2 separate regions of the Homo sapiens genome follow, and region 1 is linked to region 2. The links come from fine-mapping of genetic effects on gene expression. A gene starts in region 2. The other region holds a variant in brackets. All regions are shown on one strand. Distances are from middle to middle.

Region 1 (8,570 bases), 29 kb after region 2:
GTTGCTGGACATTTGGTTTGTTTCCGCCTTTTGGGTATTGTGAATAGTGCTGCTGTAAACATTCATGTACGGGTTTTTGTTTGTTTTGTTTGAGACAGAGTTTCACTCTGTCACCCAGGCCTGTTGTGTAGTGGTGTAATGGTAGCTCGCTGTAGCCTCGACCTCTCAGGCTCAAGTGATCCTTCAGAGTAGCTAGGCCTCCGGAGTAGCTGGGACTACAGGTGTGCACCACCATGCCCAGCTAACTTTTAAATTTTTTTTGTAGAGATGGAATCTCACTATGTTGCCCAGACTAGTCTCAAACTCCTGGGCTCAAGCGATCCTCCCACCTTGGCTCAGAGAGTACTGGGCTTACAGGCATGAGCCACTGTGCCTGGCCCAAGTTTTTGTTTGAACACATGTTTTCAGTTCTTTTGGGCATATATTATAACTAGGAGTGGAATTGCTGGGTTATATGCTAATTCTATATTTAACTTTTTGAAGAGCCACCACACTGTTTTCCAAGCAGCTGAATCATTTTACATTCCCACTAGCAATATATAAGGATTACAGTGTCCTCACATGCTTGCCAACACTTGTTATTTTGTTTTTTTATTTTTTATTTTTTTGAGACAGAGTTTTGCTCTTGTCACCCAGGCTGGAGTGCAATGGCACAATGTTGGCTCATTGCAAACTCCACCTTTCAGGTTCAAGCGATTCTCCTGCCTCAGCCTCCCAAGTAGCTGGGATTACAGGCACCCATAACCACACCCGGCTAATTTTTGTATTTTTAGTAGAGACAAGGTTTCATCATATTGGCCAGGCTGACCTCGAACTCCTGACCTCTGGTGATCTGTTCGCCTTGGCCTCCCAAAGTGCTGGGATTATAGGCGTGAGCCACCGCGCCCAGCCCTTGATTTTATTTTATTTTTTTGCCTTCCAAGTGAGCATGATGTGGTACCTCATTGTGGTTTTAATTTGCGTTTCATCTGCTTGTTAGCCATTCATAGATTACCTTCAGCAAGATGTCTACTATTTTTTAATTGAGTCATTATGTGCATTATTTTTAATTCATTCATTTGGTCATTCATCTGAGCACCTCTTATGTTCCTGGCACTCAGACACTTGGGATAAAGCAGTGAACACATTAGTTGCCAACACTGGAAAGTCAAGAGAATTCTTAAAAAATAAAATTTCTTGCTCCTGACTTCTCTACTCAGATCTGGGCCTGAGTTCTCAGGAGCCAGCCCTCTGCTGGCACCTTTAAGGTGGGGCTGTGCTTTGTTTCTTCAAGGCTCCTATCTGGTCTCAGTCCCACCTGGGCCCTGAGAGCCTTGGGTTTTACAACACCCATGCTAAGTAGCTGATGCCTTTCCAAGTAGTTACTTTAGTTCTGAGTTGAGAACAACTGGCACTGCTGTTTTTCCTCTAACTCCTTAAGCTTCCCATGTCGCATTGAAAAAAAAAATTCCTAAAACCAAATCCCTTTAAGAATAGAAGTTGGGGCACCGTGGCTCATACCTGTAGTCCCAGCTACTTGGGAGGCTAAGATGGGAAGATCTCTTAAGCCTGAGAGCTTGAGGCTTCAGTGAGCAGTAATTGTGCCACTGCACTACAGCCTGGGTGACATAGTGAGTCTCAAAACAAAACGAAAAAATAGAAAAAGAAGTGTCGGGTCGAGGGGTGGGGCCGGGGGAGGGAGAGCATCAGGGTAAATAGCTAATGCATGCAGGGCTTAATACCTAGGTGACAGGTTGATAGGTGCAGCAAACCACCATGGCAAACGTTTACCTGTGTAACAAACCTGCACGTTCTACACGTGTATCCCAGAACTTAAAATAAAGTTAAAAAAAAGAAAGAAAGAAAGAAAAAGAAGTGGCCACCCTTTATGCCCCAGGCATTTGTGGTGTGGGCAAGGAAGGAGAATTGGTTTGTTTATGCTTCCTCTTTCGAAATGATGGGTGGGTCCTATGTTTATGAGCACATTGCATTGATATGAGTTTGTAGAACTCTTTTAATTCCTTGGAAGAGCCACCTGTTTCCAACTCAACCCTGCCCTACCCTGGTCCCAGTTTCTTGGGATCAGTTAGTAGAAATTGTGGAATAATAAAATTGAGGTTATATTATCTCTGATGATCAGATAGGAGATAAATTCCAAACCAGAAGGAACAGGAATCACCTATGCCCTCTCCTTTCTCCCAGATCTGAGGGTGGGGCATGGGCAGGCATGGCTGTAACGTTGAGGCAGTTGCACCGGGTCCTCTGCTCCTGGCTCGGGTGTTCATCCGCCACGTGATCCACTTGATCTCTTTGTACTTCAGCTTCTTTACCTGTGGAATGGGAGTTCATGATACTCACCTGCATTTTTTTAAACATTTTTTTAAAATTTGGGACGGAGTTTCACTCTGTGGGCCAGGCTGGAGTGCAGTGACACAATCTCGGCTCACTGCAACCTCTACCTCTTGGATTCAAGCTTCTCCTGCCTTGGCTTCCTGAGTAGCTGGGATTACAGGCACACACCACCACACCCAGCTAATTTTTTGTATTTTTAGTAGAGACGGGGTTGCACCATGTTGGCCAGGCTGGTCTCAAACTCCTGACCTCAGATGATCCACCCACCTCAGCCTCCCAAAATGTTGGGGTTACAGGCGTGAGCCACCGCGCTCGGCCTCACCTGCATTTTTCTAGGATTATATTAGTGTGTCTCAAAGAAACCCAAACTGAGAGTGACTGAAAGAAGATGGGGGCAAGGGAATGGTTGTGTGTCTTGACTATTATCAATATCAATATCCTGGCTATAATATTGTACTATAGTTTTGCAAGATGTTAACATTGGGAAAATTTGAATATTGATGCTGAAGAATGCATGAGCTATTTCTGTATTGTTTCTTTTTTGTAGTTTTTTGTGGTTGTTGTTTTGGGTTTGTGTGTGTGTGTGTGTGCTGTTGTTGTTGTTGTTGTTGTTGTTTCTGAGACAGGCTCTTGCTCTGTTGCCCAGGCTGGAGTGCAGTGGGTGTAATCAACCTTGAACTACTAGGCTCAAGAGATCTTCCTGCCTCAGCGTCCCAAGTAGCTAGGAGTACAGGTGCATGCTACTATGCCTAGCTAATTTAAAAAAAAAAAAATTGCCAGCCTGGGCAACATGGCAAAACCCCATCTCTACAAAACATACAAAAAAATAGCCAACCATGGGGTCATACACTTGTAGTCCCAGCTACACAGGAGGCTGAGGTGGGAGAATCACATGAGCCCGGGAGGTCCAGGCTGCAGTCAGTGAGCCATGACTACACCACTGCACTCAAGCCTGAGCGACAGAGTAAGACCGTCCCAAATTTTTTTTTTTTTTTTTTTTTTTTTAGAGACAGGGTCTTGCTCTGTCACCCAGGCTGGTCTCAAA[C/T]TCCTGGGCTTGAGCAATTCCCCTGCCTTGGCCTTCCAAAGTGCTGGGATTACAGGCATGAGCCACCGTACCTGGCCTGAATATCATTTCTTACATCTGCATATCAATCTACAAATATCCCAAAATAAATAATTTAATTTTCAAAAGCAAAAAAAAGAAAAAAGAAAGGAGATGGGAGTTTCTTTATCTGGGAGACAGCCAGTCTGTGACTGGTGTGGTAGCTCCTGCTGTCCAGGCGTCAGGCTCCTCTCTTGTTGCTCTGTGGTGCCCCAAATCACTATGTGGTCCAAAATGCTACCATTCTTTTCCCGTCACAAGCAGCATTCCAGCCTGAGGAAGAAAAAAAAGAGAAGATGTCCCTTCCTCTGAAAGTTTCTTCTCTGAAGTTGCACACACTATCTCTCTTTAAACCCCACTGGCCAGGACCTCACCATCTGGCCAGATCGGCTGCCGGGGAAGCTTGGAAACCTGGTCTTTATTCCACACAACGTGGCCAGCTAGATGTCTGAGGGTGTGTCATGAGAGAAGAAGGACCTATTGGGGTTTCTGTCACACCACCTGTCAGAGCCGCTGTGAAGACACAGGAGAAAACACATATGCCAATTGAACTGGATTTTTTTTTTTCCCCCATAAATCAGCCTGCCGATTTCCCAATTAGAATTTCCAGGAGACCACTGTTTGGTCTGAAAACCATGGTGAATAATGGAAAACCAAGTTCCAAACTAAATGGGACTCCTGGTCATTGTGAGAATAGGAGGATGCTTGTTGTGAGGCTGAACACCTGCCGTCCGGCTGGAGTGTGCAGTGGCACCATCTTGGCTCACTGCAACCTCCGCCTCCCGGATTCAAGAGATTTTCCTGCCTCAGCCTCCCGGGTAGCTGGGACTACAGGCGTGCACCACCACGCCTGTTTTATTTTTGTATTTTTAGTAGAGATGGGGTTTCACCATGTTGGCCTGGCTGGTCTCAAACTCCTGACCTCAGGTGATCCACCCACCTCGGCCTCCCAAAGTGCTGGGATTACAGGTGTGATTCATCATTCCTGGCCAGTTCCCAGACTTTATAGGTGGGGAAGGTGAGCTTTAGAAAGGAGAAATCCTGTGTCTTAATTTGAATTCTCCTGAGAACAAGGACTTGGGTGCAGGTAGTTTATTTTGGAGAGTGATCCTAGGAAGTGGGGATAGGAAGTAGAGAGAGTAAACAGGGAGTGGGGAAGCTGATGAGGGGATGTTATTAACATCATCACCCTAGGCAACAAGAGCTTCATTCACCTGGACCTCTGAGAAGGTACAGATACCTCCCAGAAAAGGGGAGACTTGGAGCTCCAGCCCCATGGGGTTGACTGCTGTCCCTGGAGGCATGAGCTCCTCTTCCAGGCTGGGCTGGCCTGCAGAACCAGGGACTCCCACATTGAGGAAGTTCCTGAGCAGGCAGCAGACTCCCAAGGAGCCACCCCAGCAGCTGTAGCTAAAACCAAGGGTGGGCGGAGGAGCTGTGACATAAGACACCCATCACCCACCCAGCCAGCAGCACACCTGCATTGAGACCTCGGGTCCTCGAGTCCCTGGCCTGGTGCATTCTCCCCGTGTCCCCCGAGCTTCAGAGCATCAGCAGTGTTCCTCCTTCACTGTGACGCTTGTCCTCACTTCCCAGGTGAGGAGTCTAAGAAAACAGCCTTTCCATCAGCCCCTGTCGTGACAGACCCTCCAGTGGGATGGTAGTGGCTGCCTCACCCATTTACAGGGCAACCCAGTTTTGCTCCTTCTGCCTTGAAATTTGTTCCTCCCAGAAACTGTCCCTCACAAGGCATGAACAATCAATAGAAGATATACGTGGTCTTCCCAGCACTACAGCTGCAGAATGAGCTGTGGAGTGCCCCGTCCGGAGTCCTGAACAGCTTCAAACTTTTCCCCTTTAGAAATGCCTGACACGCCCCAACCCCAGTAATCATCGTGCATTTAACTTAGGGGTTGCCTCACCCTTGGGAGATCCAAACCCCCAGGCTGACTTCCTGTCCTTCATGGAGGAGAAGGCTCTTGTCTGCAGTGTACTCCTCAGTTTCTACTCAGGGCCAGTGACCTGGAGCCTTGGCACAGAAACCCTGAAGAGAGAAGCTGAGGTAAATCCACTGCTTTGGCCAAGCAGACAGGTGACCTGCAAGAGATGGGAACAGCCTCATCCTTAACACTGCACCCTCTGATAAAAAGGTACCTGGTGGCCGGGCGCGGTGGCTCACACCTGTAATCCTAGCACTTTGGGAGGCCGAGGCGGGCGGATCACCTGAGGTCGGGAGTTTGAGACCAGCCTGACCAACATGGAGAAACTCTGTCTCTACTAAACATGCAAAATTAGCCGGGCGTGGTGGCGCATGCCTGTAATCCCAGGTACTCGGGAGGCTGAGGCAGGAGAATCGTTTGAACCCAGGAGGCGGAGGTTGTGGTGAGCCGAGATCACGCCATTGCACTCCAGCCTGACAACGAGAGCGAAACTCTGTCTTAAAAAAATAATGATAAAAATAAAATAAAATAAAAAAGGTGCCTGGTGGCCAGGTGCGGTGGCTCACACCTGTAATCCCAGGACTTTGGGATGCCAAGGTGGGAGAATCACTTGAGCCCAGGAGTTCGAGACCAGTTCTGGCAACATAGTAAGACTCCATCTCTACCAAAAAATAAAAATAAAAATTAGCTGGGTGTGGTGGCACACACCTGTAGTCCCAGCTACTTGGGAGGCTGAGATGGGAGGATTGCTTGAGTTTGGGAGGTCGAGGCTTCAGTGAGCCATGGTGGCACCACTGCACTCTAGCCCAGTTGACAGAGTGAGATCCTTTCTCAAAGACAAACAGACAAACAATAAAAAAAAAAATGAAAAAAAGACCTCTGGGAAGTCCAGGTGTCACACCCTATTCCTAGGACTGCGTGTCCTCACTGGCCTGCTCTAGGTGACAGTTTCTGAGCTCTTACTCAGACCTAGGTGGGAATGTGAACAGAGCAAATTCTGTTCCCATAGGAGAAGATGTGCTCTGGCTTCCAGACCTTCCAGGCCATCATTGGATATGGGCTAGGCAGTCCCTGGTGGAATCCAGGTAGAAGCTCCCAGGGCCCCCTAGGCTGAGGACCACACCATTGGTGGCCATCTCTGGCCAGGAGGGTGTGGAGGTTTGGAGGGACATGCAGCATCTTCCTTCATCACTAGTGGGATGGGAAGAGGACCAGTTTTCCACTCTAGACCTTGGCAGATCTCAGTAGACCCTGAGGGCCCACAGATTTCATAGACATATGGAATTGAATGAAATTACAAGGGGGAGAAGCAGGAGGAGCTGAGGTTGGTAGTTGAGATGTGAGGAGTGTGGGGAAAGAAACCCCACTTCTGTCCCATGTACCCCTAGGAGAGAGTAGGTTATCTTCTTTTGGTTCTCTTCTTTACCGAATAGCCTTAATCCGAGAGTTGAAATGATTTGTTTACATACATTTCTCTTCCTACCACACTATGGCTACTTAGAGGGCTGGGAGCAGTGTCTTATCCATCCCTGTATCCCTAGTACCTGGCACAGGGCTGGCACATAGTAGGTGCTCACTAAAGCTTGCTTGAATAGATGAGTCAAAGGCGGTTGGGGTGGCTTAGATGGCCAAGAGAGTGGTTGTCAAAGTGTGATTCATAGAATCCTCACCCAGTCCCACATCAGAATCACATGGGATTCTGTTAAAAATTCAGATTCTCCCGGTCCACTCCCCAGAAGCTCTGCAATGAGTAGGCATTGCAGGGGCCCAGGAATTTGCATTCTTTGTGAGATCCTGAGATGATTCCGAAGCAGCTCTCCATGGACCACATCTTGAAAAACTGTCACTTGGAGGAGGGAGTGACACTGGTTGAGAAGGTTCCTTCTGATGTCCCTGGAGGGACAAGGGAGGGATCAGCCCATAAACACAGATCCTGGTTCCAACATCCATCCATCCCTCTTCACTTCATAAATGATGTGGGTCCACTTGGGCCCATGGGTGGAGAAAACCCCAACCCCAGAACCTGGAGTTTGGGGGCTCTCCTCATTCTTCCAGGCCCAATGTCCTCTGCTCTGGACCCTTTGGTTTCAGCTGGGTTCAAGTTCCAGTCACCCTCCCGTTCTCACAGCACTCCCTTTCATTTTCCATGCCCCAGCCACAGAGACAAGCTCTCCTCTGCTGGAAAAGCCCTCCTCTCCCTTCTCTGATGATTAATACTTCCTCACCCTTCAGCTGTCAGCTTAGGCATAAATTTCTTAAGGGAGTTTTCCTTGGAGCCCCAGGTGATCCCAGATTCCGTCTTACAGGTGCTCCTAGGACCACGGCCCCTTCCTTATCTCAGCTTTCTAAACATACATTCATCATTACCAAGGTTGACTGCACTCCTGTCTTTCCCACCAGACCCTTATCTCTGCAAGGACAGGGACTGTATTTGGCTTTGTTCATTTTTTACCATTGGGCCCTCTCTGTGGTGGGTGTTTCCTAAATATTTGTTGGAGGAATAAATGTTGGCTAAGTACTCCGTAGGGCTGAGGAGGCCATAGTATGGGTGGCCCCAGGGCCCAGGTCTAAGAGAGGCTGCCTTAACCCAGCTTTGAGGGGACAGACAATGGGCCTCAGATGGGCTGGGATTCCCCCCACAGTCTGCCTCATGGCTCCCATTTCCTGATTTTCTAGGCTGTTCCCACCCACGAAGAGCTAATATGTCTAATTTCCCCAGAGACAGGGAGCTTCTTAGAAGAAGGACTGTGGCTTGTTCTATCTCTAGTCCTAGCATAGTACTTGGCACATACGGGTGCTCACTGAATGTGTGTCGAAAGCATGGTCGATAAATGCCATGAATGGATGGTAAAATGCCTGTCGACTACAGAGCACTTCACCATTCGCAAAGCACCTTTGCAGGCCTGTTCACGCTTGAACGTCATGGCCCTGCTATGGAATAGGCAAGGCAGTCTCTTCATCCCCTTCGAGCCAAAGAGTAAACAGATAACTTGCCAGGTCCCACTGGGTTTTATTGGTTTGTTGTTTGAGACAGGGCCTCTCTCTGTCACCCAGGCTCAAGTGCAGTGGTGCAACCATGACTCACTGCAACCTCTGCCTCCCAGGCTCGAGTGATCCTCCCCCTTCAACCTCCGGAGTAGCTGGGACTACAGGCATGCGCCACCATACCTGGTTAATTGTTTAAAATGTTTCATAGA
Region 2 (8,000 bases):
TAACAAAAGCCTGTTCTCTGCCCTCACTCTTCCTCCCACTGCTATGCCCCAAAGAAAAGCTTTTTTAAAAGTTGTGGAAAAATAGACATAAATAAAATATATCATTTTAGCCATTTTTAAGGTTATGGTTCAGTGGCATTAAGTATATTCACATTGGTATACAACCATTACCACCATTCATCTCCAAAAACCTTTCACCTTCCTAAACTGAAACTCTATACCCATTAAACAAATAATAACTCCCCATTCCCCCACCACACCCCCAACCCCTGGCAACCACCATTCCACTTTGTCTCTAAGAATTTGACTACTCTAGGTGTCGCATATGAATGGAATCATACAGTATTTATTCTTTTGTGTTTGGCTTATTTCACTTAGCACAATGTGTTCAAAGTTCATGTGGACTGTAGCATGTGTGGGAATTTCCTTCCTTTTTTGAAAGCTGAATAGTATTCCATTGTATGGATCTACTGCATTTGTTTATCCATTCAATCATTGATGAATATTTGGGTTGTGTCTGTCTTTTGGCTATTGGGAACAATTCTGTTGTGAACATTGGTACACAAATGTTTGTTGGAGTCCCGACTTTCAATTATTTTGGGTATATACCCAGAAGTAGAATTGCTGGATCATATAACTCATTTTTAATTTTTTGAGGAAGCACCATACCATCCACTGTGGTGGCCCCATTTTACATTCCCACCACCCAATGCACACGTGTCCAGTCTCTCCACAACCCCACCAATACTTGTTATTTTCTGTTTTTTTGCGGGTGTTCTTTTTTTTTTTTTGAGACAGGGTCTTGCTCTGTCACCCAGGCAGGAGTGCAGTGGTGTGATCTCAGCTCACCGCAGCCTCAAACTCTTGGGGTCAATATATACATACATACATACATATATATATTTATTTGGTGAAATATCTATTTAAGTCCAAAGAGAATCATTTGAACTATTGTAACGATTTCTGATTTATCTTCTTCTGCTACTTGCCTCTAAATGACATACTTATTTTGCCAGTTTTAGATTTTCTGTTTGATAAATGGGTACTTGCACCCCATCTCTCCTCCCTAAGTGCTGGTACTATAGTTTTATTATTATTTTTGTACATAATGACATACCCTTTTTTTTTATTTTATACTCTCCCCCACCCCTTCCCTCTCAACTACTATCAGATGTAACTTCCAAAGTTAGTGATACTTACATTTACATTCTATTCTGTAACTGTGACTAGGTCTTCTGTAGGTTGATGTTATGAAAGAAAAAAAATCAATAAATGGTGTTTACATTTTGAGCCTGCTTTTGAAGCACAGAAGCAAGACATGGGCAAAGGGGCGGGAATAAGGGCTTTCTCATGGTAGCCAATGGCATGAGCCAAATTACAGGGACCATAAATCATGCAAGTCACATGCAGCATAAAGGAGATGTGATGGCTCAGGCAGAAGGCCCCTTGGGGAGCAACGGGGAATTTAATTGGTTAAAGGGAAGGGAAGGGAAGCTGGAGAGCCTGGATGGCCCACTGCCCTGCTCCCCACTTCCTTATACTAGCCAAAGAATGCGGGTCAACGTGATTCCCCCACCATGACTCACGGACTTCCACCAGCCGTCTTGACTTTCTCCCAGCCCTCCTCCCCATCCACAGAACCAGTGCCTACCAGGGCTTTGCACAAATAAAACAATTCTCCCTCCTAAAAAAGGTTTGCAATTCCTACACAGAGGAAGGTCTTAGAGTGAAGACACAAGAGGAAGGAGAGGATGGAAAAAGAAACAATCACTGAAAACTGGCCGACTACCAGTTCTGTGCCACCTACTCAATTCTTACCCAGCCCTCTGCGTGAAGTTGGTATTATTATCCCCATTTGACAGATAACGAGGCTGGAGAGGCCCCGTGACTTGCCCAAAGCCACAAAGAGACTACTGGCAGAGCTTTGGCCTATGTTTAAGAAGCTGAACCTCTTTGGGATTCAGTTTCTTCATCCATAAAAACAAAGACACATTCCAAGCCATGCCTGTTCCTTGCAGGGTGTTTGTGAGGGTCAGAGAAAATGTCCTTGAAGAGCCTGGCATGTACAAGATACCCTGAAACTGATGGCTATGATGCCACGGCCTGTGCACCTAGGAAGAGTCAGGAAAGCCCAGTGTCTTGAAAAGCCGAGGCTGGAGCAAAGTTCAAGGAGGAACTCACTTCTCTCCCACTCTAGGACTGACCCTCAAACTAGCCAGAAGAGTGGAAGGACCTACAAGATCAGTACCCACCCCACACTTCATAGGCCAAGAGAGGGACAGTGGTTTACCCAGGGTCACCCAGCATGCTAGAGGCTAAGCCTGCCAGCCACGGCTGGGAACCCAGACTTGTGAATGCCCCAGCCCTCCACATTCCCTGGTCCGCTATCAAAGACAGTTAGTCTAATTAGGAAAGCACACCCTTGCAGGCCCAGCCTCCGGTGATCTCTTTGTTCCTCTGTCTCTTCCTGCCCCAACCCCACAGAAACTGAAGTGTGGGGACCCTCCCTAGGAACCGGGGTTCCAGGGAGGATTTGAGGTCACGCTCAAGATCATAAAGAGGCCCAGCATGGACTCCTTCTCATGACCCAAGTGGAGCCAGAGTTCCCAGATAAGGGCAAAGGTCACCTCAGGCCAGGCTCCACTCTCAGCCACCCCTTCTGCCTGGCAGGGTTTACTTCATCTCCTCCAGTCAGGAGAGGGGAGGTCACACTGCCAGGGCCTTTGCCCCATTCTTCTCCAGCTCCTTCTCTAGAGGAAGAGTCATGGCTAGGCCGAGGCAGTGTGGACCTGGAACAGGTATAAACTGTGCTACTCTTTGGTGCCCAGTGCCACTTTTCCTAGCCAGGACCAGAGCTATCACCTTCTCTGTCCCGCAGCTCTGCCCAGGTCTTAGTACCCCACTCACCCCTGGGCCTCAGGAACCCTAAGGAGGGGCATAGGGTTGCTTTCCATTCACACCTGGGGCAGCACAGGGAACTGTGCCACAGGCCCCAAGACAGGCAGATGGAGGATGAAATACACAGGTCCCAGTCCCTGAGGCCACCTTACGTGTCCGGCCCCCAACCCTGTGCAGAAGGTCAAGGCAGAGGCGCCGAGGAGGGATGGGAGGATGCCTCCTGTGAGATGGGGTACAACTGGTGTTCCTTCTGAAGCTGACATCTGGCCTCAGCTGGGACTCTGGCGCCAGCGGGCCCGCAGGGGGCTCACCCGCGACACCCTTTGTTCTGGCTGCCTCCCCAACCCCGCGGGGCCCTCTGCTCCAGCTGGCATGCCTCAAGGACGCTTCGCGCCTGCTCCTTTGGCCCCCGGCTCGCAAGTAGCGGGGCCAGCACGTGACCCGAGGGGGCAGGGGATGGATGGATCTTGACCTTGCCATCTGGCCCCTCACGGATGTGCTGCTGGCTCTCCCTCTAGGAAATCAACAAATTTTTGCGCTTCTAACATCCAGGCCCCTGAGGATGGTCGCGAGGAAGATCTGTTTCGGACTGCAGCTGGGGCCTTCGGATCCAGAGGAAACCAGGGCTATTCTTCGAGGGTGGGAGGGGGAGGGCCGCGGGGTCGGAGGGGAAGGTGGCCCCGCGCGAAGTCGCCGCCGCCGCGCCCCGCCCCGCCCCGCCGGCGGAGACCGAATCCGCCGCACCCCATAGGCAGAGGCCACCCTCCCCGCCTCCCCGCCCGCTGCGCGCCCGCCCCGCCCCGGCTCACTTTAAAAGTTTACTCGGGCCGGGACGCAGGGCAAAGCGAGCCATGGCTGTCTACGTCGGGATGCTGCGCCTGGGGAGGCTGTGCGCCGGGAGCTCGGGGGTGCTGGGGGCCCGGGCCGCCCTCTCTCGGAGTTGGCAGGAAGCCAGGTTGCAGGGTGTCCGCTTCCTCAGGTACTGGCCCCCCGCGGGAAGAGAGGGGGCGGGGCAGTTCCCCGGGAGAGGAACTTGGAGGTCCCGGCGAGCTTCGGAAGCCCCACCTCTGGACGAGTGCACTGGGGGGAAGGTACCCGCCCCTCCCCCGCCCCCCGCCAGCACCTAGGCAATAGGAAAAGCTGGCTTGGCCTGGTGGACTTGGGTGGGGAGGGGGCTTTGGTTGGTGGCTGCAGTGACTTCGAGTTCTGGTCCAAGACTCTCGATTCCTTCTCCTTTATGGGCACAGAGGGCAAGGAGTGTGGGCTTTAAGGAGAATATTCCGATGGGGAGGGGCAAGGGCCAAGGCCTGGGCTGTACCCCCAGGACACTGCCTCTGAGTTGGAACCCCTTCATGGGCAAACTTGGGGATCAGCCCCAGTCTCCCCGACCCAGGCCACTAAACTTAGCAGTCTCCTGTCTCCTCATCAGCTGCTCACTAACATGGCTTTAATTCTTTGCTGCCTACTCCTGGGCCTATTTCCTTCTGTCCTCAGTGCAAGGGGTGGGATGGAAGCTGGCAGGCAGAGGATTTCAGTTCCCAGTAGCTTCACTGCCTCTGCAGCAGCACAGTAAGTAAAGCTGCCTTCCCGGTGTGACCAGTCCTTGGGAGGACCCCGTGAGATGGCAAATGTGAAAGTGCTTGAGACACAGAGAGCAGGCTGCCACTCATGTTATCAGGGCTGTTAGCTTCAGCAGCACCACTGGGGAGCCCTGTGCACTACTGAGCCTGTCCTACCACTCAACTCGGCCAGATACTAAGTCTATGGTCAGGACAGCACTTTCAGCAACATCAGATGGGGTGTGGGCCTGGACATGGAAAAGGGAGAAGTCAGAACAAAGCTGTGTCTCAGAGAACTAGATTTGTTTTTGTTTTTAAAAAGGCTAAGTAGGAAGAGTTGGAGGGACATGCAGACTCCTTTTTGGCTAGAACTCCAAGATCACACTTTCTGAACTTGCTGATTTCTGAATGCTAGAAAGCATGCAATGCCTTAACATCACTCTGCCTAATTTGCTGAGAAAACTAAGTGGATCAAGGCTGGTCAGTAGATGGGATTGAGATGAGGACAGTGGGGTCCTCTTCCCAGTGACCCTGGGAAGTCACTCACTACTTCCCAGGGTCTCCCTAGACAAGTTCGGCCCTCCCCTGACCCCCTAGTCTCTTAAGCCTCTCCTCTGGACTCATGGCTGCCCCCTCAGGCTGGGAGGACTCTGAGGAAAGTTACTTCCCAAAGTGTACATATTTTATCACACTAAATCAGGCCACAGGGGAAGTCTCTCAGCCTACTCTGGCTCAGGAGGCTGCCCAATAGAAAACAAACAAACAAACCAATAAATAAGTAATAAATCAGGCCACATGGCAACATTTCTGACCTTTGACTTTTTTTTATCTATAAACAAAACAGGTCACTTACCTGCTACAGCCCTGGGACCTCTGAGAGCACCAAGCTTCAGAGAAATTCTTATTGCTGTGTCAGGAGGAGACTCATTTATCCAGACAGATGATTTTCTGAGTGTTTGGCCTACTTTCTTTCTGCCCCTTCCACTCCCTTGTGCCTGCACCCTTATTGTCTGACTGTGATGGTTTTACCTGATTTCTCTCCTACTTTCCCCTTCAGAAGCCTCAGGGCTCAGGCCAGGCAAGGTGGTTTATGCCTGTAATCTCAGCACTTTGGAAAGCAGAGGTGGTAGGATCACTTGAGCCCAGGAGTTCAAGGCTGCATTGAGCCGTCATCATGCCACTGCACTCTAGCCTGAGCAGCAGAGCAAAACCTAGACTCAAAAAATAAAAATAAAGGCTGGGTGGGTGGCTCATGCCTGTAATCCCAGCACTTTGGGAAGCCCAGGCAGGCAGATCACTTGAAGTCAGGAGACCGGTTTGGCCAACATGGTGAAACCCCGTTTCTACTAAAAATACAAAAATCAGCCGGGCGTGGTGGCATGTGCCTGTAATACCAGCTACTAGGGTGTCTGAGGCAGGAGAATTGCTCCAACCTGGGAGGCGGTGGTTGTAGTGAGCCAAGACTGCACCTCTGCACTCCAGCCTGGGTGACAGAGGGAGACTCCATGTCAAAAATAAATAAATAAAAATAAAGGCCAAGCATGGTGGCTTATGCCTGTAATCCCAGCACTTTGGGAGGCTGAGGTGGGCGGATCACTTGAGGTCAGGAGTTAGATCAGACTGGCCAACATGGAGAAACCCCATCTCTACTAAAAATATAAAATTAGCCTGGCGTGGTGGCACATGCCTGTAATCCCAGCTACTTGGGAGGCTGAGGCAGGAGAATTACTTGAACCTGGGAAGCGGAGGTTGCACTGAGCTGAGATTGCACCACTGCACTCCAGTCTGGGTGACAGAGAAAGACTTCATCTCAAAAAAATAAAAATAAAAATGAAAAAAGAAGCCTCAGGGCTGAAACCATCAGCAAACATTCCTGAGAACAGATTCTGCGTCATGCTAGCACATGCTGTGCATATAGAGGCCACAGAACTCAGTCCTCACCCTGCCAGGAACTTGCAGCCTCGTAGGAGGAGAAATAAATCAAGGTGAGCACTATTCGGTGTTGCAAGTGCCATGGTGAGGAATGCGCTTGGACTTTCGTCCTCTGTTTTCTCCGATCTGCTCACACACAGCCTGCTTTCCTGTTGCCCAACACCCAGGCCTATTACTTACCAGACCCTGGTTTTGCCTGAGAGAAAAGAGCAAGGGCTTTGAAGTTAGACTATCCTGGATGACAGCCCTGGGTCCTCTCCCTGTTGGTTGTATGACCTCGGGCATGTTATCTAACCTCTGAGCTAGTTAGTTCATTACTTACTACCTTCTTGCTGTGTTGTTGGGCTGATGAATAAAACAAGCTTGCTCTTGTTCTCAGCCTTTCCTTTGAGGCAGGGCTGATCCCTGGAAACCCTTGACTGGTGTCTGGGTGGGAATTCTGACTGATTTGAAAGTAGGAGAGGATCCCCTGATTGGTGGCCTCTTTCTGGAACCCAATTATTTCTCCTAGCTGATTGCCAAGATGGTGACTTCCACCCAGCTACATGTCCAGTCCTTGGGTCTGCTGGACGTCCTCCTCTCCGTTTGACGCAGGGCTGTTCAGAGTCTTTCTCTTTTTCTTTTTTTTTTATTTGAGGTGGAATTTCGCTCTTGTTGCCCCAGGCTGGAGTGCAATGGCATGATCTCAGGTCACTGTAACCTCCGCCTCCTGGGTTCAAGCAGTTCTCCTGCCTCAGCCTCCCAAGTAGCTGGGATTACCGGTGTGCGCCACCCGCCCAGCTAATTTTGTATTTTTAGTGGAGATGGGGTTTCACCATGTTGGTCAGACTAGTCTCAAACTCCTGAACTCAAGTAATCCACCTGCCTCAGCCTCCTAAAGTGCTGGGATTACAGGCGTGAGCCACCACGCCCGGCCCAGAGTCTTTCTCCCCAGAAGGAAAGAAAAAGCTGTCCTTTGCTCTCCAGAACTCCTCACGACCAACTCCTTCCCCCTATCTATGTGCCTCCTTCCCCAAAGAAGGTGGATGGCTTAGTCTGGGGCTTCAGTGAACCTCCAAGGAAGGAATTCAAGGAGAAACCTGGGCTGAGCAGGCTTCCCCCAGACCTGCCCTAAAGCTGGCCTGGGGCTGCCTATGAGGCAGCTGCATCCAGGGTGTTGAGAACACTCAGAGCTGGGAAGGCAGAGAGATCAGTGGCTAAAGCCTCTCAGAATTAGGTGTGGTGCTCAGAGCTGGGGATCCAGTGACTTGGTGCTGATGGTGGGGACAGAGGGGTAAGGGGGCTTTGTGGACCACCCTCCATGGGGATGGCTATGATCATATAAGACTGTGGACCTAAGGGAAAAATCTGAGGCCAAAGTAATATAAGTAGAGAGATTTATTTGGGCCATGTTTGCAGACTGCAACCGGGAGCATAGACTCAAGTTGCCCTGATTATATGATCTGATGAGCAGCAGTTACAAGTGGGTTTTTAAAAGAAAAGAAGGCTGGGTGCAGTGGCTCACACCTGTAATCCCGGCACTTTGGGAGGCCGAGGCAGGCAGATCACAAGGTCAGGAGTTCGAGACCAGCCTGGCCAATATGGTGAAACCCTGTCTCTACTAAAAATACA

Alleles and levels. Positions count from the first base shown, and alleles are read on the strand shown. Sizes are in standard deviations (SD) of each study's normalised expression.
For the expression in whole blood of the gene that starts at base 3,706 in region 2, allele T in region 1 goes with a lower level than allele C (moderate effect, 0.66 SD a copy in TwinsUK).

The links. PIP is the estimated chance that this variant, and not a neighbour inherited with it, causes the effect.
Region 1: its variant is the best candidate, but not a certain one, in a credible set for the expression of ACSF2 in whole blood (TwinsUK, PIP 0.56).

Annotation. Positions count from the first base shown.
Region 1 is chr17:50,450,859-50,459,428 of GRCh38, forward strand. The region is part of intron 1 of ACSF2 (acyl-CoA synthetase family member 2); the gene reads left to right. Among named protein-coding and RNA genes, the nearest start is that of CHAD, 14 kb to the right of the region's middle. The variant C/T (reference allele first, on the strand shown) is at 3,377.
Region 2 is chr17:50,422,513-50,430,512 of GRCh38, forward strand. It overlaps ACSF2 (acyl-CoA synthetase family member 2), which reads left to right and starts at 3,706. Exons shown (of 16, transcript NM_025149.6): 1 at 3,706-3,877. The coding sequence starts at 3,750. RefSeq lists an enhancer at 3,238-3,782 and a silencer at 3,519-3,838.